Linked DNA regions of Homo sapiens: regions 1, 3, 4, 5 and 6 are each reported to be linked to region 2. The links are microRNA targets in miRTarBase. Many come from high-throughput screens and were not tested one by one. Region 2 holds a microRNA gene; each other region holds the end of a gene's coding sequence.

Region 1 (4,099 bases), not on the chromosome of region 2:
GCAGAAGATGTGAGGAAGCTGAAAGCAAGACCAGATGATGGAGAACTGAAAGAACTCTATGGGCTTTACAAACAAGCAATAGTTGGAGACATTAATATTGGTATTATATATTATTAATATTAATATATTCATATGTTACAATTAATATATTAATTGCGATTATAATATATAATTACTTAAAATATAGTAATATACTCCGTTTGAACAATGTCTATAGAAGTGCACAGTAAAATGTTAACCTGCAAATGCATGTCTCCTTCTTTTGCCAGCGTGTCCAGGAATGCTAGATTTAAAAGGCAAAGCCAAATGGGAAGCATGGAACCTCAAAAAAGGTTTTTTAGTCTTTCACAAGTTTAAAGCAAACTTTCTTAATTTCCCAGTGCACCAATCAGGGAGATAACCTGTTTGTATCTTTCTAGGGTTGTCGACGGAAGATGCGACGAGTGCCTATATTTCTAAAGCAAAGGAGCTGATAGAAAAATACGGAATTTAGAATACAGCATATGAGGAATTTTTCCTTTTGAAGACTTCCAAATGCTATCATGACCTAACATTTAGAGGGAGAGGCATACTGTTAACTTGATGTATCATGTATATTTTTGCTATTAGCATGAGCTGTAGTACTTAGAAGTATACTGAAACTACATAGTTAACTCAATTGTACTTGCTTAAACCAGGTGTCTTTAAAAGTTCTTTTTAAGAAAATGTGGCACATATACACCATGGAATACTATGGAGCCATAAAAAGGGATGAGTTCATGTCCTTTGCAGGGACATGGATGAAGCTGGAAACCATCATTCTCAGCAAACTATCACAAGATCAGAAAACCAAGCATGTTCTCACTCATAAGTGGGAGTTGAACAATGAGAACACATGGACACAGGGAAGGGAACATCACACACTGGGGCCTGTCGGGGACTAGGGGGTTAGGGGAGGGATAACATTAGGAGACATACCTGATGTAGGTGACCGGTTGATGGGTACAGCAAACCACCATGGCACATGTATACCTATGTAACAAAACTGCACGTTCTGCATATGTATCCCAGAACTTAAAGTATAAAAAAAAAAATTCTTTTAGAAAAGTATTTTTTATTTTTATAGAGTTAGGGAGTACAGTTGCAGTTTTTGTTTGTTTGTTTGTTTTTTCTTGAGGAGTCTCACTCTGTCACCCAGGCTGGAGTGCAGTCGTGTGATCTCGGTTCACTGCAACCTCCGCCTCCTGGGTTCAAGTGATTCTCTTGCCTCAGCCTCCCGAGTAGCTGGGATTACAGGTGCTTGCCACCATGGCTGGCTAATTTTTGTATTTTTAGTAGAGACGGGGTTTTGCCATGTTGGCCAGGCTGGTCTCGAACTCCTGACCTCAGGTGATCTGCCCACCTTGGCGCTGGGGTTGCAGGTGTGAGCCACCACACCTGGTCACAGGTGCAGTTTTGTTACATGGATATATTGTGTAGTGGGGAAATCTGGGCTTTTAGTGTAACCATCACCAAAATACTGTACATTGTACCCAAAAGGTAATTGCTCATCCCTCACCCCCTCCCACCTTTCCAAGCCTCCAGTGTCTATTATTCCACACTCCATGACCCTGTATACACCCTGTTTAACTCCCACTTATAAGTGAAAACATGTGGTATTTTTTTTTGTTTCTGAGGGTTCTTTAAAAATCTTTATTTTCTTATTTTTTTCTGAGTTGTTTCACTTAAGATAATAGCCTCCAGTTCCACCCACGTTGCTGCAAAAGCCGTAATTTCATTCTCTTTATATGGCTGAGTAATATCCCCTGGTATACATATACAACGTTTTCTTTATCCCATCATCTGCTGATGGATACTTAGGTTGATTCCATATCTTTGCTCTTGTGAATTGTGCTGCAATAGATATACAAGTGCAGGTATCTTTTGGATAGAATGATTTATTTTCCTTTAAGAAGATACCCAGTAGTGGGATTGCTGGGTAGAATGGTAGTTCTATTTTTAGTTCCATGAGAAATTTCCGTGCTGTTTTTCATAGAGGTTGTACTAATTTACATTCCCACCAATAGTGTATAAGCATTCCCTTTTCTCCACATCTGTTGTTTTTTGACTTTTTAGAAAGTCTAGCCCTGGTAATATGTGTACAGATTTGAACAGCTGTTTGTTCTTTTGGCTCATCTGTTCTGTTACAATAAGTTAATGTTACTGGTGAAATAAAAACAGGTTATTAAGAATCAATGGCAAGGCTGAGCGTGGTGGCTCACGCCTCTAATCTCAGCACTTTGGGAGGCCGAGGTAGGTGGATTACTGAGGTCAGAAGTTCGAGACCAGCCTGACCAACATTGCAAAACCCCATCTCTACTAAAAATACAAAAATTAGCCAGCCATTGGTGGTGCACACCTGTAATTCCAGCTACTTGGGAGGCTGAGGCAGGAGAATTGCTTTTACCCAGGAGATGGAGGTTGCAGTGAGCCAAGATCACACCACTGCACTCCAGCCTGGGCGACAAAACAAGACTCCGTCTCAAAAAAAAAAAAAAAAATTACAAGTCTGTCCATAGCAGTTTAAAGAAATTTAAAAAGCCCCCATAGGAATATCTATTTTTCTTTAAATTTTTACATTTAAGACATTTAAGACAAAAAGGCAAACTAAAATGTATCTAGTGATAAACTGTACCACTACTGTACCCCATATGTTCAGTTCTATCTGAGTAAAAATAGAGTCTGGAATATAATATTGGCCCCCTACTCAGTCTTTCTGGATGGTACACAGGCTCTTTGAAAGAAGACAGTCTCATGTTAACAATTCAAAAAATTGTTTGAGATCCCTTAAGATAAATATCCCCCAAAACAGTGTACCTCTATTCCCTGCATAAAAATTTAGATTTGGAATGGTATGACCAGAGGAATAGATCCACTTCATGTTACTACAACAACAAAACTATCTAGGTCTGCTAGATGAATTTCCAGGGAATTATGCTGAGCAGAAAAAGCCAGTCCCCAAATGTGACATGTATAATTCCATTTATATAACATTCTTTTTCTTTTCTTTTTTTTTTTTTTTTTTTTTGTTGAGACAGGCTGTCACTCTGTTACCCAGGCTGGAGCGCAGTGGCACGCTCTCGGCTCACTGCAACCTCTGCCTCCCAGGGTCAAGCAATCCTCCCATCTCAGCCTCCAGAGTAGCTGGGACTACAGGTGCGTGCAACCATGCCCAGCTAATTTTTGTATTTTTCATAGAGACAGGGTTTCACCATGTTGCCCAGGCTGGTCTGGAACTCCTGATCTGAGGTGATCTACCCACCTTGGCCCCCCAAAGTGCTGAGACTATAGGCATGAGCCACCGCGTCCAGCCAGGATTCTTGAAAGGGAACATTTATAGACGCAAAGGATGGAATAGTGGTTGCCAGGGAGGAGGGAGGTGGGTGTGGCTTTAAAAGGGCAGCAGGAGGGATGATCCTGCAGTGATGGAATGTTCTGTCTTGATTGTAGCAACACCAATATGCTGATTGTGATATTATACTATAGTTTTGCATAACAGTTACCATTAAAGGAAATTGGGTAAAAGGCTACACAAATCTCTCTGTATTATTTCTTACAAATAAAAGGGAATCTGCAGTTACCTCAAAAAGTTTACTTTTAAAAATCGAGGTTGATTTCTCATCGGGAAAATTTTGGCAATCAAGATAATTCTCATCTTTCTAAATTTCGCCTAATGATAGACGTCTTCCACGATGATACCAAGGCCTAATTCCTTCAAAGAGAAGACATCATCAATGATAGACTTGGTGTCTTACAGTTGAGGGCTTGAAAACTCCTGAAAGTTGTTCCCATGTGGACTTTACCTCCACCAGGTAGAGATGCAGGGGAAAAAGCTTACCCCCAAAGCCTGGCATTTGTTCCATCATGAAACTTCAGTTTGCAGACTATACTGACTAAACATTTTTCAAATTAATAATCACGAATCCTAATTATTATTATTATTTTTGAGACAGAGTCTCATTCTGTCGCCAAGACTGGAGTGCAGTGGCATGGTCTTGGCTCACTGCAACCTCCACCTCCCGGGTTCAAGTGATTCTCTTGCCTCAGCTTCCCTAGTAGCTGGGATTACAGGCGTCCGCCA
Region 2 (4,106 bases):
GGAGGGAAAGAGACAACAAATCACACACAAAACAGCCAAAGCTTCCTGGGCACAGTGGATACTTAGGCGTGAGCAGCTTACCTTGTAACCTTCTGAGGTCCAAGGGGTCAAGTGCAGCCACCGCATCAGAGACCCTGGAGGGTCGGCTGATGCCCGCACTGTTCACTGCCCTCACTCGGAATATGTAAGACCTTCCTTCAAAAAGCCCTGTGACCGGGTATTTGCAGATTTTCACCGGTGCATCATTGCACTGCACCCAATTATTCGTTCCTACTTCACATCTTCAAGTTAAAAAAAGAAAAACAACAGAGAATAGCAAATGTGGCAACCTACTAAATATACATAGGTATATGCATATATGCACACACTGATTATAACAGGACAATATCTCACGCCAGTAAAATCTTTGCTGCTAAGATATTGACTTGTATAGATAAACATTAGAAGACAGAGCTATTTAGAAAATGCAATATATATATTATATGTAATATCTATTATATATGTAATATATGCCCATGAATCTTAATAATTTATAGCTGAAGATCAATTTCTGTCATCAAACACATTTAGGCAAAAATCTCCTCAAAAAATTATTTTAGACGCATCCTGAACAGTTCTTGTTCCGACTTACGTGACATAGTCACGGCACCCCTAAGCTGCGGCTTGGCCCGTCTGAGGCCCAGGCTGGGGAAACAGGCTCAGCCCCCTCTGCCTCCAGCTCCCGTCCCACTCTGTGAGACCAAGGGCCCAGGTCCCTGGGAAAGCTGGCTTACAGTCTCCTAGAATAATGTTAGGACATTTCTTTCTAGAATGCCTCTCATGTGGAATTTAGAAGTCTTTTGAAAATATTAATTCCTGACCAGAAACCTGGAAATATAGGAAAGATTAACCTCTGTTTTTCACAGGTTGAAAAATGTAAGAAAAAAACCTTCACATGAAATTCCCAGGAGAAAAGAGCTAGTTCAGAAAATCAGTGTTGGGAGGGAGCACTTCAACCCCAGAGTGGTGCCTTCATCTGGGAAAGAACCAGCTCTCCTCCTAAGTATCCAGCACTTTTAATGAAAGCTGTCTGATCCACATGTCATGGGCTGTTTTAGCCGAAGAGAACAACAGGTCAAAACCAAAAGTCTGATGGGAAAACCTGCAACTTCAGGCAACAGCTGGCAAGTCGTAAGCCCAAAGGAAGGGCAGAGGAGGAGCTGCACCCCCCACTTCCAAATGCACCCTCATTCCCAAAGTGTTCCGTTGCTTTGAATTTCATGTTTGCGCTTTTTGTAATGAGGGGAGGAGCGTGGATTGTTAGCTGAGACAGTGCAGGAAATGGTTTTTGTCAACATGGCGGGAAAACTTATCAGCTGTCCCAGGAGAAAAGAAGATCGTTTTGAGGGTTTGTTTTTCTTGCTGTAGTTGCTTAATTCAAGGTAAGCCCGGAACAGCACTCCCTGCAGAACTGTCTCTAGCATATCAAAATATTAGTTTGATGGCACAGGTCTCAGCCAAACAAGTAGTTTTGTTGGAAGAGAAAAGAGAATTTAATCAGCATAAACAAACAAACAAACAAAAGCCAATTCCCTCATTTTTTCCTAAGATAATCACCTTATTTTTCTGTTTAATATACATATAAAATTTTGCATTTCTACCAGGAACCATCCTTTGTGGTTTTTTTGTTTTGTTTTTTTGTTTTTTGTTTTGTTTTGTTTTTTTTGATGGTGGAGTCTCACTGTGTTGCCAGGCTGGAGTCCAGTGGCGCAATCTTGGCTCACTGCAACCACCGCCTCCCTGGTTCAAGAGATGCTCCTGCCTCAGCCTCCCAAGAAGCTGGGATTATAAGCACATGCCAGCACACCCAGCTAATTTTTGTATTTTTAGTAGAGACAGGGTTTCACCATGCTGGCCAGCATGCTCTTGATCTCCTGAACTTGTAATCCGCCCGCGTTGGCCTCCCAAAGTGCTGGGATTACAGGCGTGAGCCACCGTGCCCAGCCAGAACCATCCTCTTTTACTCTCTGTCTAATTTCTAAATTCATTTTCTTCAACTATAATTTACTCCAAGAACTGGAATTTGTATTTAGGGCATAAATTACATATCCAGTAAACCCACTGGCTCTGTGCAGTACACTTCCCAGGCTCCAAGCGCTGTCCCCAGTACGGGAAGTCAAAGAATTCAAACTCCACTGGCTCCAACGATGACCTAAATGTAAGTTATCAACTCAAACACAAACTCCAGTATTTCGAAGCTCAAGATTTTTCACTTGGAAACAAGAAGAACACCTTATTCCTCAGTAGAGAAAAGGAAAGAACTTTGTTAGAAATGAGCTGGCATTCTTCGCAGCACTTTGTCTCTCAGGAGGGAAGGACAGTTCCAAGCTTTAATTCTGCTAAAGCCAGGGCCCTGTCCGGTACGGGGCACAGCCCGGACCTCAGCAGAACCACAGCGCGGGGCTCAGAGTGAGCCTGAAGACGTTGGTGGGATTGGTTACTGGGTGTGCAACAGGCAAACGAGCCTCCACTTTCAACAAAAAGAAACCCAGTGTGGTTATGCTGGGCTCAGCCTACTTGGCCGTATTTACCAATTACCTAAATAGGAACTTATACAACCAATTAGCCATGTACCTAGAGCCAATCAAAAAATGGGAACGTCAACCTGCATTGAGAAAAATTTCTCAATATATTGTCCATGGTAAGATTCCATGCGGAACGTTCCCATCCCCGGGAGAATGCAAGACGCTCACCGGTCCACAAAATAGCCCATGACGGGGCTCTCAGTGGTGGTGTTGGGCGGCTTCCAGGTCACGATGACGTAGTCCCGGTTGGCGTCGTGGCACTGCAAGTCCATGGGTGCACCGGGGGCCCCTGTGACCAGCGGGTCAGCATCTTGGGGCAGGGAGAGAAAAGGCACACGCCTGTCATTTAAAGGCTGGGGTCACTGCAAAGCCTGTTTACAGCTCCTCCAAGCTCCAATTCTATCCCCTTGATTTGACCACTGTTTAATTCTCATGTTCAAAGTACTAGAATATTTCTTACTCTGGCGGGTTGGTGACAAGAAATATAAAATTATGTATGAATTAAAAAGCTTCAAAACATAGAATCCTTGATAAAACACTGAGTCTACAATTTTTCGTCATTAGATCCTGAATTACAGGTCATCTTCTCTTGGTCCTGCTATGGTGCATAACGGCACGTTGGCAAAAATGTGCGGATGAAACAGTGACAATAATCTGGCATTTCTAACACCTGAGAAATATCACCTGAGATACTCTTCTATTTCAAAATCCTTAGGAAATTGGGCGATTTACTCTTTTCGCCAACTTTGAGCAAATATTTGGGACAATATTGCATCATTCGTTTCTCAGTCTATTGATGACCCTAATGCAATTAGGTTTAATTACAGCTGCATGAAAACCAACAGAGCAACATAGAAAGTTAATACACTGAATGTGAACCTTCTTATCTAAACTATGTATTTATTCAGCAGCCCTGGCTGCCCTGTGACGCATGCTTAGCAGGGTGAGCACTATCCAGTTTCCTGCTCACATATCTTCAGGGTATTAAAAGCTGAGGATTTCCTGACATTGAGCCAAATGGTTTCCTCTCACATTCAAAAGCCTCAGAAAGCGATGAAAATGGTTAAACTCCCCACCTTTGCCTTATTTTCCTCCTGTTGCTGGTGCTGAGTGAGCAAGGCGATTTGAGCCGTGTTGCATTTATTGCCTTTTTATGGGGCGGAGCATCATACCAGCAGGCACATGCAGAAGACGGAAGGGACATTTAACGCCCGCCTAACAACAGCAGTGAAACTTGGCGGGAGTGTCTAACCTCACAGACTCGCAAGCTCAGGCTATCGTGTGGGAAGTGAGGAGGGTGAGATACGTTTGGTTGACATTTCTTCTCTTTCTTTTCAGATGAAATATTCTTTAATGATACAGTCCTTCCTTTAAGCTCTGATCTAATGGATGCAATGGAAAAAGTAATCATGAAGATGTATGGATGCGTCCTGCACCCCACTGGAGCTGGAGGCAGGTGGGAAGGTGAGAACTTGGGCAGCAGGTAAGGATGCCCGGCTGATCGGGATGGAGCCGGGAGCCCGGGGACCCGGAGAGCAGCAG
Region 3 (4,000 bases), not on the chromosome of region 2:
AAAACGGACATTGTCTTTGCTCTTTGTGCTTCTTTGGCTTTGCCAGTACTAAAGCTGTGCCTTACAGACCGGGTTTCTCTTCCAGGGATGTGTCTTGGTGAGCTAGTCATTAACCCCCACCAGCAGCACATGGATGCATTCTATTGGGTGATTGACTGGGAAGGGATGATCTCTGTCTCTAGCCTGGTGGGACTTCTTGAAAAGCACTTCTTCCCCAAGTGGCTTCAGGTACACTTTGTTTTGCTTGGATTTCTGGGGGAGGGAACTGGGTGGGGATTAAGTTAATTTTCTGCCAAGGCCTGACTGTAGGTACAATTCCATAATGAAAATAAATTACATGGTAGGGTAGGAATGAGTTAGGTCATCTTCATAGTGGGCACCATTTATTGGACATTTGCCATGTATCAGAAGCTGTTCCAAGCACTTTATTTGCTTTATCTCAGCTCCTCTCAGCAACCCTATGGGGTAGGGGATATGGTATCCCTGTTGTGTAGACATGGAAGCTGAGGCTCAGAGAGTTTACATGCAAGGGCACTTTAGCTACCAGGCTGACTCCAAAATCCATATTCATAAGTGCTAGACTGTTTAGCTACTATAAATCCCTGTAAAGTAGTGTCACTAGCCTGTAGGACCAGGATCAAAACAAAACAAATGGCCACTTCAGAAATCTTGCCTTCATTTGTTGCCACGATGGATGCAAGTAATTTTTCTTTTTGGCAGGTGCTGTGCTCTTGGCTCAGTAACAGCCCAAATTATGAGGAGATCACCAAGTGGTACCTGGGTTGGAAGTCGATGTTCTCAGACCAAGTGCTGGCACATCCATCTGTCAAGGACAAATTTAATGAGGCACTTGATATCATGAACCGGGCGGTGTCCTCCAACGTTGGTAAGTGAGGATTCCCATTTTGGATGTCCTGGCCCCAAGTTTCAGATTTTACACATGTAAATGACACAGAATCAGAGTTTTCTGGTTCCTGTAGGCAGCCTAAACCTTAGGTCACACTTTTGCACATAGCAACAGACTCTCACCCTGCTGACTGGGGTACATGGTCAGCTGGCACCCACTGCCCAGGTCTACCATGACTGAGAGGGGCATCTTCCCTGAGTGGAGACTGACTTAAGCTGGATTCAGATGATGTCAGTCTAACCCCAGGCCCCGCCCTCTTAACCACTGTGCTGTGTGGCCTTTTAAGGCTCATTCATGCCTGAGCATGCTGCTTAGGTGACGCATCTTACAGTGTGGAGTTTGGCACGCGGTCTGACACTTGGTGATTGCTCAGCCTTAATCAGCCCCATTTTACCTGTTAAACAGTAAGATCTACTTTATAGGCTAAAAGGGAGAGTGAGTTCATGCTTGTGTATAGCCTTCAATAGGTGGTGTCTGTGTTGTCAAAAACAGGCAGTTCACTGTTCGTGTACTATATCTGTTCCCAAGTTCTAGGTAAGTCATTCTGCCTAGATCATAAGTAAGTGAGAGTATATTTATGTTTCTACATTTGGGAGCCTATTTCAACCAGTCCTGTGCTCCAGTGTTGCTCATTAGCCGATTCGCAGCATTGAAATGGGATCGTCTAGTCTGTGTTTTACAGATAAGCCCAGCGAGGCTGAGAGCCTGTTCAAGGTCACATAGTTAAAGGGTGGCAGTTAGAACTGGAATTTCTATTTCCTGAGTCTTTAATTCTTGTTATTTAATAGCCTAGGCCAGGCACGGTGGCTCACGCCTGTAATCCTAGCACTTTGGGAGGCCGAGGCGGGTAGATCACGAGGTCAGGAGTTCGAGACCAGCCTGACCAACATGGTGAAACCCCGTCTCTACTAAAAATGCAAAAATTAGCCGGGCGCGGTGGCACATGCCTGTAATGCCAGCTACTTAGGAGGCTGAGGCAGAAGAATCGCTTAAACCTGGGAGGCAGAGGTTGTAGTGAGCCGAGATTGCAAGCACTGCACTCCAGCCTAGGTGACAAGAGCGAGACTCGGTCTCAAAAAAAAAAAAAGAAAAATAGCCTATTCTGTGAAAACAGAGATTAAGTAATAAGGCAAATATACTTCTCTGCTTCTGTAATTATCAAGTTTTTTCTAAAAACTCTTCCTTAGCTACCCTTGGCCTCATGTTTCCAAAACTGTTCCCTGAATATACCCCTCAATTAGCACTTAGCATTTATGGTCTTGGTATTATCCTTTAAACACTCATTTCAGCTCCCTAAATATATGTGAACTTCTTTCAGGATGGGGGCCCTGTGTGGGTAGGTTAAAAATAAAGCCAGTATGGGCCCTATGTTTTCAAGGTACTAAAAGCTGCCTCTTTGGTGGTGGGAAATGGAAACTCTACAGAGCAAGGTGGGAACAGAAGAGTGGCTGAGGACTCTCTGTTAATGTTTCCAGCTCTGAAGGAAGAAATCCCTTGCAGATACTTCATTTTAAAATGTTGAATATTAATAATCTGGTTACTAGATACTAGCCAGGAACCTTCTGAACAGTTTTTATGTGATACTGGCCAGTCGTCTAAACTTCCTCCAAAGTTGTATCTTTGAGGCAGAGCTGCCCTTCAGTGAGTCACAAGCACTCTGGCACACCCAAGACCTGGGCCAAGCCACAGTGTCAACTTCCATACACCTGGAAACACCTCTCCTCACCGCCCTGTCCTCCTGTATCTTAGGTGCCTACATGCAGCCAGGAGCACGGGAGAACATTGCCTATCTCACCCACACGGAGCGGAGGAAGGACTTCCAGTACGAGGCCATGCAGGAGAGGCGGGAGGCTGAGAACATGGCTCAGAGGGGCATTGGCGTGGCCGCTAGCTCTGTGCCCATGAACTTTAAGGACCTCATTGAGACCAAGGCTGAGGAGCACAACATTGTCTTCATGCCCGTCATTGGGAAGCGACACGAAGGGAAGCAGCTCTACACCTTTGGCCGCATTGTGATCTACATCGACCGGGGAGTGGTCTTTGTCCAGGGCGAGAAGACGTGGGTGCCCACCTCACTGCAGAGCCTGATCGACATGGCCAAGTGAACTGTGGCAGGTCCAGAACCAGTCAGAGACTTGCCCCTAAGAGGGATGTACTGTAAATAAACAGTATTTTTAGATCACCTTCAAAAGGGTAACTTCTTTACTCAGGAGCTACTCCACATCAGGCCAGGTCATGAGGGAAGGATGTAAAATGGGACAATGCCACGTAGGGCAGGAATCTTTATACCAAGTCCTCATGTGGGGTATCGTCCTCAAAACAGGACAGCCAAGTTGATGTTCTTTCCTGGCAAAGGAGTTCTCTGTAGTTCCTCCATAGCAGCCTTCCCTTTAGTCTCTGGTGGCAGCTTCTACCTCAGCCAACACTGAGTACCTCACAACGAGTTCAGTCAGTAGCAGAAGGATCTTCTCTCTTGTTCCTGATGATTTCAAGGTCCTCACAGTCCTGATAATCTGGTTCTTCCCGAAACTCCCAAATATCTATGGAGAGCTGTTCTAGCTTTTGCACAGGGAACCAGTGGACAGAGGTATCATTAAATATGTCCATGTATTGTGAAGTCTGAGGAAACTCAAGCTCCTCCAGTCCTTTTAAAATCTGAGCAGAAAAATTCAAGTATAAAAACTTCAGATAGTCACAGTAATCCCCACTCTTCTGGGATAAATTTCCACTTTACTTGTCATCCCCACTTTACTTTTTAAAAAAATAACAAATAGGGTATTTTGATTTAAATGCTTTTGCACAATGAATTGGGCGCCCCAAGGACAGTGGATATCATGGACTGTGATACTAAGAATAAAGGAAATAAGGAAAAAACTAAGAGATGCATTAAAGAGTCATAGCTTTCTGGAACACAGACCCATGGAGAGAGCTGACAGTACACTAGCGCCACTTAGCCCATGAGTTTCCTCCTACGCCTGTAAAGAAAGATAGAATTCTTCACAGTTTCACACCCTTTTCCATCCCAGCCCCTTTATTCAGATAGATACCTTTGCAATGTAGGGATAATTTTTCTGCAGAATCCTTGCCAACAAC
Region 4 (4,105 bases), not on the chromosome of region 2:
CTTGGCTGCTTTCTCCAGGTACTGCTGCTGAGGGACCATTTCTCATCACTAGAGGGTTGGGTTCCCATCCCAGGGAGGGATTCAGTATTCTTCTGAAGCCTAAGGGGTCTAGAAGACTTTTTTCTAGAGGGAGGAAGGGGTGGCTATGGGATTGCCTTTCCTGTTTAGGGTAGGTAGATCGTTTCCCACTCAGGGAAGATACTCTCCCTATCCTTTGGGGCCAGGAGGCTTGGAATATAGAACAGTCGAGGCCAGCTGCTCTCATTCACTGGTCTTTTAACATTTTCTTTCTTTCTGCCATCGTATGGACAGGATTTGAAGTACAGAATTTCAGCCAGCAGCCCATCAGGCTGACACCACACATATTGCTTCTGGTACTTTAGCCACACCAGTGAGAATTGGTGGGGCAAGTTGTCCTGAGAAAGGCTGTGTGGCTTTTCTTCAGCACAGACATTTGGGCAAGCAACTCAGCATAAGGCCAGTGGGTACCATCTTCTAAACCAGGACCATCAGCCCAAGAGACTCTTCTACACTCCAGTATAGGGAGGGGCAAGGTTATTCCCATCCTGCCCCTTCTCAGAACCAGTCCCCTGCTGACCTCAAGTTCTCCTCCTTGATCACCGTGGCCAGAGCATCTCGTGTGGACCATCTAGGCTCCTTGGGCTTCAAGCAGGACCTGAGCCACATGCTCCCTGTACGAGCTGTGCTATACCTGTCCCACATGAGCACGGAGAGCCTCATGTTGGTGGGTTTCCAGAGTGATGTGAAAGCCTCTCACCCCAATCCTCGGAGACTGAGTTCCACAACTTTTTTAGTAGCTCATAGTGTTATTTTTCTACTCTCTTCATGAAACTAACTTTATTTTATAATAAATATGTATTTTCTGTTGTGGGGGTTGCAGCCTTTCCTTATGGCACCTGTCCCTAGAATTCATCCACTCCAAGAGAGGGTCATGACTATCCCAGCAGTTTGTTCTCAGGAGCTTTGCTTAGTGATACAGTGTGGACAAAAGGCAGTGATGACCACTGATTTTCTTCCCCAAGCTGCAGCCTAAATTAAACCCTAAATGCACTGCCATCCTCTGTATCTTCAAGTCTCTCGTCATGCAAAAGACTGCTTATTTGCTTCACTCTGCCCCAAAGTCAGCATCTTGTCTCACTCCTCTTACAGATAATTGTTAGCTTTTTTCCAGTGGGCCATGTGAAACTGGAAGAAGCATATTCTAAACTAACTTTTTTTTTTTTTTTAATTTTGGAGACAGTGTCTCAGTCTGTCATCCAGGCTGCAGTGCAGTGGCATGATCTTGGCTCACTGCAACCTCTGCCTCCCTAGCTCACGTGATCCTCCCACATCAGCCTCTCAAGTAGCTGGGACTACAGGCACACACCACCATGCCTGGCTTTTTTTTTTTTTTTTTGAGACGGAGTCTCGCTCTGTCACCTAGACTGGAGTACAGTGGCATGATCTCGGCTCACTGCAACCTCCGCCTCCTGGGTTCAAGTGATTCTTCTGCCTCAGCCTCCCGAGTAGCTGGGAATACAGGTGTGCACCACCATGCCGGGCTAATTTTTTTTTGTATTTTTAGTAGAGACGGGGTTTCACCATGCTGGCCAGGCTGGTCTCAAACTCCTGACCTCGTGGTCTGCCTGCTGGCCTACCAAAGTGCTGGGATTACAGGCATGAGCCACCGTGCCCAGCCCACTAATTTTTGTATTTATTGTAGAGATGGGGTCTTTGTTGCTCAGGCTGGTCTGTAACTCCTGGGCTCAAGCGATCCTCCCGCCTCTACCTCCTAATGTGCTCGGATTATAGGTGTGAGCCACTGCAACCAGCTGATGTTTTTTTTTTTTTTTTTTTGGTCATTTATTTTAGTATTTTGAGGCCTGGCACAGTGGCTTACACTTGTGATCCCAACATTTTGGGAGGCTGAAGCAGGAGGATTGCATGATTCCAGGAATTTGTGACCAGCCTGGGTAATATGGTGAGAACCTTGTCTCTACAAAAAATTTAAAAACAAGCCAGGTGTGGTGATGCGCACCTGTAGTCCCAGCTATTCAGGAGGCTGTGGCAGGAGGATAGCTTGAGCCCAGGAGGTCAAGACTGTAGTGAGCTATGTTTGTACCACTGTACTCCAGCCTGTGCAGGAGTGAGACCCTGTCTCAAAAATAAAATTTTGAGTCAACATAAAAGGAACACTTTTTTTTTTTTTTAAGCTGGAGAACTGTCACTCTAGATCAATGTATACTTTCTTTCTCCAAGTAAGCATCTTTAAAATTATTCCTCATTTCCTTGGTAGTGGCCATGTTTTTTAATTCCAAGAAGCCACGAGGAGCCATGACGGAATCCACTTCAGAAAACCTTGAGGCTCTTCTGTTTTCAGATGAATCCTAGATTATCTGCTCTTACTCGAAGTAAAATGTAACTTTAAGCATTCTATGCTGGCTTTAACTCTTACTTTCTATGATCAAGCTCATTCTTATCCTGAGGGGCTCTGCTGTCCAAAGCACTGATGTTTTTTCTTGTTTCCTACCCCTTCTGTGCCCTTGCCTCCCAGTTGCCCTTGGGGACTATCCAAAAACCAGAGTAGACAGGTCTAATCAGCCATGACACAGTAACAAAACCTTCAATAGGAACTGCCCTGATAATTACAAATCCCACTAATACCAATTTTCTGCTACTTTCTCCCTGTGTTGAAGAAATCGCTGGTATCAAACTGGAAGAGAGCCCATTCTGTATGGCCTATTTAGAGGTTCACTGGTTAAGCTCACTGCCACAGCAATATAAATGATTGGAAGGCTCAATTGGAAGTTGAAGGGTGCCTTATAAAATCCATTAGAATTTAAAGACCTATTTTAGAGATGAACCAAGTCTTACCCCCGACTTTGCAGGCTTAGAGATGAGAAGTGACATAACCAGCACCACACATCTGGTTATTAACAGGTGGAACTAGAAATCTTGCCTTAGGAGTCTGTCTGGATCAAGGAAATTCCATTTCCTCATACTTGAGAATGAGGATGATGGTTGAAAATGAGGCTGTGATTAGGAATAGGAAGTCCTCTCATTTACTGGGTGGTTATGTGGAAGTTTAGTGCATTGTGCTTCCTGTGGGTTGCGTGATAAATGTTCATTTTTCCTGATGCTTGTTGGAACCACCTGTGTAGATGCAGTTAGTCACATAATTAGGACATACAACAGAAACTGAGGCAGTGGAGGCCTGGCACAGTGGCTTACACTTGTGATCCCAACATTTTGGGATCACAGAAATCAGTGTAGCTAGTCTTTCAGATTTATCGTGGCCAGAGGCTGTGCTCACTAGAGTCAAGGGAAGCTGCTTTACAGTCCACACAGAGCTGGAGGTACCAAAATTCTGGGACAGTGGAGAGAACTGAGCAAAGCAACAGGCCCTGGTCATAAGCTTGGCAGAGGCCTGCTCAGCTACTCACACTCATGGCTAGAACCAGCAAGTGACTGCAGTGGTCTCGCCCAGTTTAGGAAGCATTTAGGGCAGATTGATTCTAGCTCCATACCATGGCAGCAGCTTGTGGAGACTACTAATCATCCAGTGCCTGGCAAAGTGTATTTCATTCATATAATGATCCTATGAGGCAGAAGGAAATTAATCAGATGTTAAGTCATGTGTCCAAGGGCATTCAGCTTAGAAATGGAACTGGGATTTGAACCTAGAGTAACCATAAAATCCTTCCTTTTCTACACCACCATGGTACCTCCTAGATGAAGCTGAATTTTGCCTCTAAGCTACTAGTCCTCACAATTTAGTTTACAAGTCATCTGGGGCATAAAAACCAGACACCTAGACCTTATGTAGAGATTGCTACAGCACAGGAACAGGTGTCTTAGCAAGCATGACGTACAACTAAGATGTGGGTTACCATGGAACCCAATTTGAAAGTAATAGTTTTACATTCTAAGGTATTCCAACTATTTTTTTTCCTTAAGTTTCACATCTTGATAGACCCTCTACGGAATCTCTTCTCCTAAAGCTTGTTTTTACAGTGATCTTGCCATTCCTGGTACCATACACATTATCATCTGGTCTGTGGTTCACTTTTTTTTTAAATCATTGAACCCTCCTTCACCTGGCTTT
Region 5 (4,106 bases), not on the chromosome of region 2:
GGTAAACTTTATGTGTTTTTTACCACAGTTTAAAAAAAAAAAAAAAGGAAAACAGTATGTTCCACACCATCTGCCATTAGGGAAATGCAAATTAAAATTACAAGATACCATGAAGAAACTGTTGCAAATTAGAGACCAAGGAGACATGGGCAGAGTGACATGGAACCTAAAATGGCTCAGGCAACCTAGTTTTTTAAAAATCTTTTCAATTTATCTTAAAAAATAAAGTGACATTTCCAAATGTCACTAATTAATAGAGAACATTTTGCAACATTTTAATGTTTTGTCATACTTGATAATTTGCAAAAACAAAAACAAAAATATGATAAGACTCTCCAAAATGTCAACATGGCTCTTCATACCAACAGCAAAACGCTGTATTTCCTGTTAAAATACAAGTTAATAAAGAAAATAGAGAAACTAAATACTAACATATCATGTTATTTTAATAACTATTTAAATATGAGGTGTGGTGGCTCACACCTGTAATCCCAGCACTTTGGGAGGCTGAGGCAGGTGGATCACAAGGTCAGGAGATGGAGACCATCCTGGCTAACACAGTGAAACCCCGTCTCTACTAAAAAAAAAAATACAAAAATTAGCCGGGCATGGTGGCAGGTGCCTGCAGTCCCAGCTACTCGGGAGGCTGAGGCAGGAGAATGGCGTAAACCCGGGAGGCGGAGCTTGCAGTGAGCCGAGATCGTGCCACTGCACTCCAGTCTGGGCGACAGAGCGAGACTCCATCTCTAAAAAAAAAAAAAAAAAAAAGAGTAAAACATAATGAAAAGCATATGCTTGCTTGGTGCTAATGACGTTTTACAGTCTTATAGATGAAGCAACATGTGTAATTTCAACCAGATGTTGAAATGGTTTAGGATTAGTATCTAAAGACAAGTATTTCAGAAAATATGTAGAAAGGTAACCATACACTTGCTACAGGGGGTCCTCTATGCAACTGTCTTGACTTTGCACTTTATTTTTCAAAATGAAATTATAATCTGTTCTGAATAACATATATGTTTTAAGTTCATAGAGGGAGTTCAGCATAGTTAAGAGCTCAGGTTTTAGAGTCAGATTTTTGGCTTTATTGCTTACTGGGCTATAGGATCTTGAGAAACTTAAAACTCTCTGAGCCTCGGAGTACTCATTTCTAAAACAAGGATGGTAACAGTTAATCCTGTCCCGTAGGATGTCGTGTTGTTTAGATTAAGATAATACCTGTAAAGTGCTTTCCATGGCATCCAACACATAGTAAGTGCTCAATAAAAGGTAGCTAGTATTATTGTTGCTATTCTTACTACTATTTTTTCATTATTACTGTTAATAAAATAATCACCCTTCAAATCTAAAAACAAAATAAAATAGGTTTAGAGGAAGTGAGCACATGAGAGTAGCAAGGATAGGTTGTGGTCAGAGAGCAGAGTACTGGATTTCAGAGGTGGAGTGGATGACATCCAGGCTGTGGTATGGGAGTTTGTGGCTAAAGTGCAGGAAAGGTAAAGGTCACTGTCTGGAGTTGAGGTTAAGGAACTGTAAGGTTATGGTTTCTCATCCACATGACGGTTAATTATCTCTCAGAATGAGGACGGGAAACAAGGTAGAGAGGAAGAATTGGTTGCGAAGACTTCACTGGATACAGGAAAATAACTGGGAAGAAGGTAACACAGCCCCATCCTGGGCCTTCCTGGGACCCCCACCCCTCTTTTTCCCAGTTCTTGCTAGCTCACATCTAACCTACTTTGCCTTGCAAATAAGGAGATCAGAAAAAAAGCAAAACAAACAAACAAACCAAACAAAAACAAAAACATACAAACAAAAAAAAACCTGCCCTACTATCCTACTATCATCTCCCGGTAGCACCTCACGAACCTGCCTTGGGCACCTACTAAGTGCAACTTTTTGTAGATAATACAAGAAGGTTAACACAACTCCTGTCCCAACACCTTTTAATACAGTTGAATGGATAAAAACATGGATACAAACACATGGATATAGGTATCATTGAAGCAGTGTGACATAAAATAACATCTATATATACAACACTCCTCTGCAAATAACAAATGTAAAGTAAAAGATACCCAACAAATCATTTTGTTTATCTTGCTATCATTTCTTAATCTATAACGTCTCCCTCCCATGTATCCATGCAAGGAAGCAGTATCAGCTGCCCGACTAGAGGGTAGCTCCCTCCCTTGGGTTACTTTTTTTTTTTTTTTTTTTTGTAGAGACAGAGTCTCACTCTGTCGCCCAGGCTGGAGTGCTGGAGTACAGTGGTGCAATCTCAGCTCACTGCAACCTCCACCTCCCGAGTTCAAGCAATTCTCCTGCCTCTGCCTCCCAAGTAGCCGTGACTACAGGGGTATGCCGCCACACCTGGCTAATTTCTTTTGTATTTTAGTAGAGACAGGGTTTCACCATGTTGCCCAGGCTGGTCTCAAACTCCTGAGCTCAGGCAATCTGCCCGCCTCTGCCTCCCAAACTGCTAGGATTACAGGCGTGAGCCACCGTACCCGGCCACCCTTGGGTTACTTGAGACCCTACTTTCATTTGGATCTGAGCTGTCCTACCCACTCACTGCAATCTGGCTTTTCCTTCTTTGAGTATAAAGTCGATACGGGATGGCTCGCCTACAGCTTCAGTGTTTGAAGTAAAGAAAGCTTTATGCAGATTCTGGCTTTTAATGGGTCTCCTCTGACAGTAGAAAGATTCAAACCACAGCCAATTCCAAGAACCCTTCTAAGAACAGAGACAGAGTCACTTCAAAGGATCTGACTTGCTATACCTAAATATAATTCATGGTGCTTTTCCTATGACACACCATAATATTTTGTCCAAAAATCTTGCAACATGTTATTAACTTTGAAGAAAGAATAAAAGCAGCCACTTTAGAGACTGGAGACACTCAAGCACTCATCTATTCATAAAGTTTCTACACAGCTGAAGAAGTTTGCATCAAGTGGACAAAAAATAGTACAGAAAACCTAAATACAGAAAAATTCAGAAAACTCCATCTCCTAGAAAGCAGGGCAAGGCTGGGCACGGTGGCTCACTCCTGTAATCCCAGCACTTTGGGAGGCCTAGGTGGGTGGATCATTTGAGGTCAGGAGTTGGAGACCAGCCTGGCCAACATGGTGGAACCCGTCTCTACTAAAAATACAAAAATTAGCCAGGCGTGGTGGCACATGCCTGTAATCCCAGCTACTCAGGAGGCTGAGGCAGGAGAACTGCTTGAACCCGGGAGGCGGAGGTTGCAGTGAGCCGAGATCGCACCACTGCACTCCATCCTGGGCGAAAGAGCAAGACTTTATCTCAAAAAAAAAAAAAAAAAAAAGAAAGCAAGTTAAATGGACTCAGTTAAAGACCTCACTGAATGTAGGAGAATCAATGGGAAACAACGTAAAGCCTTCTGCTAGGGCATAAATAGGAATCCGTCTATGTAATCAAGAAATTACTTTGCCTCCTGATCTAAATGCTTGCCTCTAGTCTAGGGCTTAGAAAAAGGCCTGGTTATTTGAACTGGTTGTCAATCAAGGTCCCCTTCATTTTCGCTTTCTTGGCTTCCAATTCAGCCTAGAAAGAAAAAAAAAGCATATGTCTTGATACATGACATGAAATTATTTTCCTTCCTTATTCTAACCAACCCAAACACTCTCCCTTAATGTTCATTTAGTGTACAAACTAGAATCATGGTTCCCAAATCATTATATACCTCTAACATCTACTTTCCAACCTTTCTGATGTTATAGCACATACACAAAAAATGCTATTTGTAGGCAAAATGGGCAAAAAGACAAGGCTGTGGCCACAGGAAATCAGCGCAGGGATTCCAGCAGCCCCAGCGCCCCCCACAGGCTGAGGGAACCAATACTGTGGCATACCAGTATGCTATTCTTGGCAGAACAGGAAGAACATCATTCTACAACAGTGCTACTTAAAGTTATATGGTCTATGAACTATTTGTTATTGGTCCACACAAAATATGTACAAAAATGGATAGTAAGCATTTAGAAGCTTTTATAGCAATTTGACACAATAGTAATTTTTAAAATCTGATAAAAATTGAGACAATTCATTTTTATTGTATTTTATAAATTACAAATCTGTTC
Region 6 (4,106 bases), not on the chromosome of region 2:
GCCAACTTCTAAGCAAGCATGGAAATGGCTAAATCTTAATCATTTTTTTGTTTTTATTAGATGACAATGAGAAAAACTTGTCCCTTGGTCTACAGACTCTCCGATCTCTGAAGGTAAGATTGACTCCACTTACCCCTTGATACTTCCTCTCTGAGGCAGGTATCCTCTTACACAGGAACTCATAGTGGTATCACTGACAAGTTACCTGTTTTCAGTGCATCATAAACTTGGATAAGCACCGGCTGATCATGGGGAAGACAGACAAGGAAGAAATCCCTTTTGTGGAGACAGTCTCTTTGAATGAAGACAAGTGAGTGCCCAAATGGGTCAGATCAAGTCACATCCATTTGTCATCAGCTGCGAGCAGGGTGGTGGTGGTTCTCAGACAGGACATGGGGTTGTATCCTGTCTTTGGCTTTCAATTATACTACAAATCCACCCTTCCCCACACCCAGAGTTCATCACCCCACAAAACTCTGTAGTGCACACATCAGAATGAGCAATGGTGATGCCACACAGAGTGGTAGGGAAATGACTAGCTTTGAAAGCAAAATTTTACTTGCCTTCAGCTTAACTTTTTTTGAATTTGGCATTATTTCTCCTGATATTTATTTCTCATTTCAGCACTTCAGAAGCATAACTACAGCCTGCAGCATGTCTGCACGTGTGCATGCATACACACCGGGTTGACAGATAGAGAAAACTGGGTTTGAACCAAATGCCGTAGTGACTTGCTGTGGACCAAGTCCTTCCATCTAATAGAAGCTCCAGGGGCTCCTTCCCATTCAGACCTCTCTAGACTATAGTCTATGCTTAGAGATCTTGTCTGGTTATGGCCATTGTTTTTTACTACTTTGATCACTTAACTTATAGACCTTTTTTGACACTGCCAGTCTCACTTGTGGCCTATTTCTCTGCTTCTTCCAGGAATTTGCTTTTATTAGTCAAGTATAGGGGCTGCCAGGTTCTGTGTCTCCATAGATATATGTGCTTCTTTTCCTATAGCTAAATGTATAATAAACAGGAACCTGACCTTTACCTCCTTTCAGCTGTTTCAAACAGGTGCCAGGATACCTATGTCTTAGAATTAGAGTTTCTTCAAATTGATTCATTGATTTCTCAAGTATGGATTATGTGAAAGAGCCCAGGGACATTATCCATTACAGTTTAACTCTTTCATTTAAAGGTCCAGAGAGGCAAGTGAATTGTCTAAGTTCATATATTAGGTCAGTGACTGAAGGGACCAAGAACGCAGACCTGATTTCCAAGCCAAGACTCCCATGCTGCCTCATTTGTATTCAAGCCTTTAACAGGAGGGCAAAGAGGTGAGAATGTGTTAAAAAAAAAAAAAAAAAGGCAGAGCATGGGAGGAATATTCTCTGGAGATGGATGCTAGGATGATTTGGGTAGCTCTCCCTCCTGTGTGCCAAGCCCAGTAAAAGTTCCTTGCCCCAAACTGTCACATTTAGGCCCTCATCTTGGTGCCTAAAAACGAGCGTACAAAGATGAATGAAATGGTTTCTCACTGTGAACCTCTTGGAGGAAAGGAGGAACCACAGACAGAGGAATATTAATCCCTCTCTGATATGGAATTGAAGGCTTAAGTAAATCAGAGTGTCACTGTCAGACGTTGATTACTCCCAAGATCCGATCAGCATTTCTGCCCATCCTATTATGTGTCTGTCAAGGACTGAAGTAGCTGGAAACCAGGAGTAGAGAAAGATGGGGGGAAAAAAAGAGCAAGGCCAGAATAGAAGGGAGTAGACTGAGTAGAATCAGTTGGTGGAGAGGCCTATCTAGATAAACCTTTCTGGGAGGCAGGGAATGACATTTTCAGGCAGGGAATTGAGATGTTCAGTTCTGTCCTGATACAAGGAAAGAGGCAGAGCAGGAGCCGGCAATGTTAAGGACAACTTTTTATAACTGCCCAGTATTTCCTGACCCCTGTCAAAGGTTGGGGAGAATACAAGGTTTCTTGAAGCTTTTTGACTGGGGTGTCACATTAGGCACACAGGTGTCTATAATGGAATCTCCCCTTCAGTTTGGTCATAGAAGTGCTTGGACAAGTCAGAAAAATAGCTAGCTGTGGGTATCCCTTTAAGATATTCCCAAGTCTACCCTGTGTCATAGCAGTAGTTCTCAGAGTGTTTGTTTAAAGGATCCCACTTTGAACTTTGCCAAGTACTACCAACTACCTTGTCTGGTGTTCAGCAACTGCCCCTACTGAACAGCCCTTTGGAACTCTGAATGATTTGGGCCTCACAGAAGCTCCCTAAAGCCTAGGAACTTGGTGACTATCATTTGAACAACTAGGCAGCCATACTGCAGTCAGTTGTCATGGGGTCATTCCCTAGGCCCCCTTCCTATCAGCCTCTACCTAAAGAAGCTAGATAGGAAGCTAAGCACAGCCATGGTTGGGAGGCTATATCTAAAGCTCATGAGGGGTGATCCCGGGGTTACCAGCCTTCAGCACTCCCTCTAGCAACACCCCATTCTCTTACCTAGCGGGGATTTGTACCTTTCCACTGAGGCCTCTCCATGCTCCTTCCCTACCTTTCATGGCAATACTTTGGCCTGCCTCTTATCCTGGTACTAAGTTGAAGTAAAGCTCACCCTTTACTTCCCTACTTGAAAGTTCTACTCTGAGCCTTGACTCTTAGCCACAGTGAGGCATGTTGAAGGTTCCTGCTGGTTTATTCTTTTTTTTTTTTTTTTTTTAGACAGAGTCTCACTCTGTTGCCCAGGCTGGAGTGCAGTGGCACGATCTCGGTTCACTGCAAGCTCCGCCTCCCGGGTTCATGCCATTCTCCTGCCTCAGCCTCCCAAGTAGCTGGGACTACAGGCACCTGCCACCACGCCTGGCTAATTTTTTGTATTTTTAGTAGAGACGGGTTTCACCGTGTTAGCTAGGATGGTCTCGATCTCCTGACCTTGTGGTCCGCCCACCTCAGCCTCCCAAAGTGCTGGGATTACAGGCGTGAGCCACCGCACCCGGCCTTCATTCACTTTCTTTAAATGCCTCCAAGTTGATTATTCTCCTAGCTCATATCTCCTTGATGTGCATGAGGGAGCACTGGGTCTAATTTTTGGGGGCTGAGAAGGTAAGAAGGTGAGGTCAGTTTTTCCCAGGAGTCCTAAAAAATTCTGGTACCTTACATTGAGGGTGTGGGAGAAAGGGTGTCATAGTTCTGAAAATAGGCAGTAGCATGAAGCACCAGACCTGTCTCATTCCTTATTAGATGTCTATCTCAAATAACAGAGTTTGAAAAATATTGGTTTTATCATTTGATATTTCCATGCCTGACTCGGGAAAATAACATTTTCTGACTTCTTTCTATTTTCTTGCCCTGCACAGACCCTACCTGGTACAATTTTCTATTTCTTAGCTCAAAGTGTCTATACAATGGGTTGCCTGGTATGTCAGCTGCCCTCACTCTTGTGTAATAGAAATATATTGCCAGGCTGGGGACGTGGAGGAGACGAACTGGATTCCTCCCTCCTCCTGTTGCCAGGCCTCTCTGCATTGGCACTTTATCCTTTCAGTGTTTCTGGCTGTGTTGGGTTCATTTGTGAGACTGATGTAACAATAAAGTGAAATCTTCCCCTCTGTGTGCTTGTCTGACAAAGTCTTTGTGTCAGGGCTCCAGTCTGGAAGGTGGGGGAGACTAGGTAAAGTCTAATTGCATCAGCATTTTTCTCTTAGGGTCTCCTGTTCCTCCATTGCTACTGGCCCTTCAGGTGTCTCTTACTGACTGTATGTCGAGCACATTAGCAAACCTCACTGAGCTTGGTTTTGTAATCTATAAAACAGAAGTAATAAAAGTGCTTACCTCACAGTGTCAAATAAGAAAATCCATATAGAGTGGTTGGCATATGGTAGTCACTCAGAACTTCATATACGGGAACAATCTTTTATGGTGGACCTGTCAGCAGTCCGAGAGAACACTTCTAGAAAAGGAAATATAGCTGGACGCGGTGGCTCACACCTGTAATCCCAGCACTCTGGAAGGCTGAGGCTGGAGGATTACTTGAGCCCACGAGTTCAAGACCAGCCTGGACCACATAGCAAGACCCCCTTCTCTACAATTTTTTTTTTTAATTAGCCG

The links. The annotated mature microRNA hsa-miR-7160-5p reads UGCUGAGGUCCGGGCUGUGCC and lies in region 2 at 2,406-2,426, opposite strand. An mRNA with a match to its seed (bases 2 to 7 or 8) in the 3' UTR can be bound and repressed. Matches are read on the target gene's strand: a 7mer-m8 pairs with bases 2 to 8, a 7mer-A1 pairs with bases 2 to 7 and ends in A, and an 8mer does both.
Region 1: the mRNA of ACBD7 is a reported target of hsa-miR-7160-5p. Seed matches in the 3' UTR shown: 7mer-A1 at 801-807, 7mer-m8 at 1,246-1,252 and 7mer-A1 at 2,250-2,256.
Region 3: the mRNA of SRRD is a reported target of hsa-miR-7160-5p. Seed matches in the 3' UTR shown: 7mer-m8 at 2,839-2,845, 7mer-m8 at 2,355-2,361, 7mer-m8 at 1,878-1,884 and 7mer-m8 at 503-509.
Region 4: miRTarBase lists TMEM216 as a target of hsa-miR-7160-5p. Seed matches in the 3' UTR shown: 7mer-A1 at 467-473.
Region 5: the mRNA of STEEP1 is a reported target of hsa-miR-7160-5p. Seed matches in the 3' UTR shown: 7mer-m8 at 3,210-3,216.
Region 6: the mRNA of NRIP3 is a reported target of hsa-miR-7160-5p. Seed matches in the 3' UTR shown: 7mer-m8 at 2,813-2,819 and 7mer-m8 at 2,946-2,952.

The regions. Positions count from the first base shown.
Region 1 is chr10:15,074,924-15,079,022 of GRCh38, reverse strand. ACBD7 (acyl-CoA binding domain containing 7) reads left to right here. Exons shown (of 4, transcript NM_001039844.3): 2 at 1-100; 3 at 270-332; 4 at 420-3,548. The coding sequence ends at 493. It overlaps ACBD7-DCLRE1CP1 (ACBD7-DCLRE1CP1 readthrough), which reads left to right. Exons shown (of 8, transcript NR_144471.1): 2 at 1-100. Among named protein-coding and RNA genes, the nearest start is that of ACBD7, 12 kb to the left of the region's middle.
Region 2 is chr8:2,074,909-2,079,014 of GRCh38, reverse strand. MIR7160 (microRNA 7160) reads right to left here and starts at 2,426; the gene lies at 2,375-2,426. MYOM2 (myomesin 2) reads right to left here. Exons shown (of 37, transcript NM_003970.4): 11 at 2,733-2,874; 12 at 82-281.
Region 3 is chr22:26,491,025-26,495,024 of GRCh38, reverse strand. SRRD (SRR1 domain containing) reads right to left here. Exons shown (of 7, transcript NM_001013694.3): 6 at 3,955-4,000; 7 at 367-3,562. The coding sequence ends at 3,353. It overlaps TFIP11 (tuftelin interacting protein 11), which reads left to right. Exons shown (of 15, transcript NM_012143.4): 13 at 86-228; 14 at 721-886; 15 at 2,657-3,785. The coding sequence ends at 3,012. Among named protein-coding and RNA genes, the nearest start is that of SRRD, 9.1 kb to the right of the region's middle. RefSeq lists an enhancer at 538-1,737.
Region 4 is chr11:61,397,958-61,402,062 of GRCh38, forward strand. TMEM216 (transmembrane protein 216) reads left to right here. Exons shown (of 5, transcript NM_001173990.3): 4 at 1-18; 5 at 313-889. The coding sequence ends at 319. Among named protein-coding and RNA genes, the nearest start is that of TMEM216, 7.4 kb to the left of the region's middle.
Region 5 is chrX:119,536,220-119,540,325 of GRCh38, forward strand. It overlaps STEEP1 (STING1 ER exit protein 1), which reads right to left. Exons shown (of 7, transcript NM_022101.4): 7 at 1,930-3,570. The coding sequence ends at 3,508. Among named protein-coding and RNA genes, the nearest start is that of STEEP1, 27 kb to the right of the region's middle.
Region 6 is chr11:8,980,079-8,984,184 of GRCh38, reverse strand. It overlaps NRIP3 (nuclear receptor interacting protein 3), which reads left to right. Exons shown (of 7, transcript NM_020645.3): 5 at 61-113; 6 at 216-310; 7 at 625-3,609. The coding sequence ends at 640. Among named protein-coding and RNA genes, the nearest start is that of TMEM9B-AS1, 17 kb to the right of the region's middle.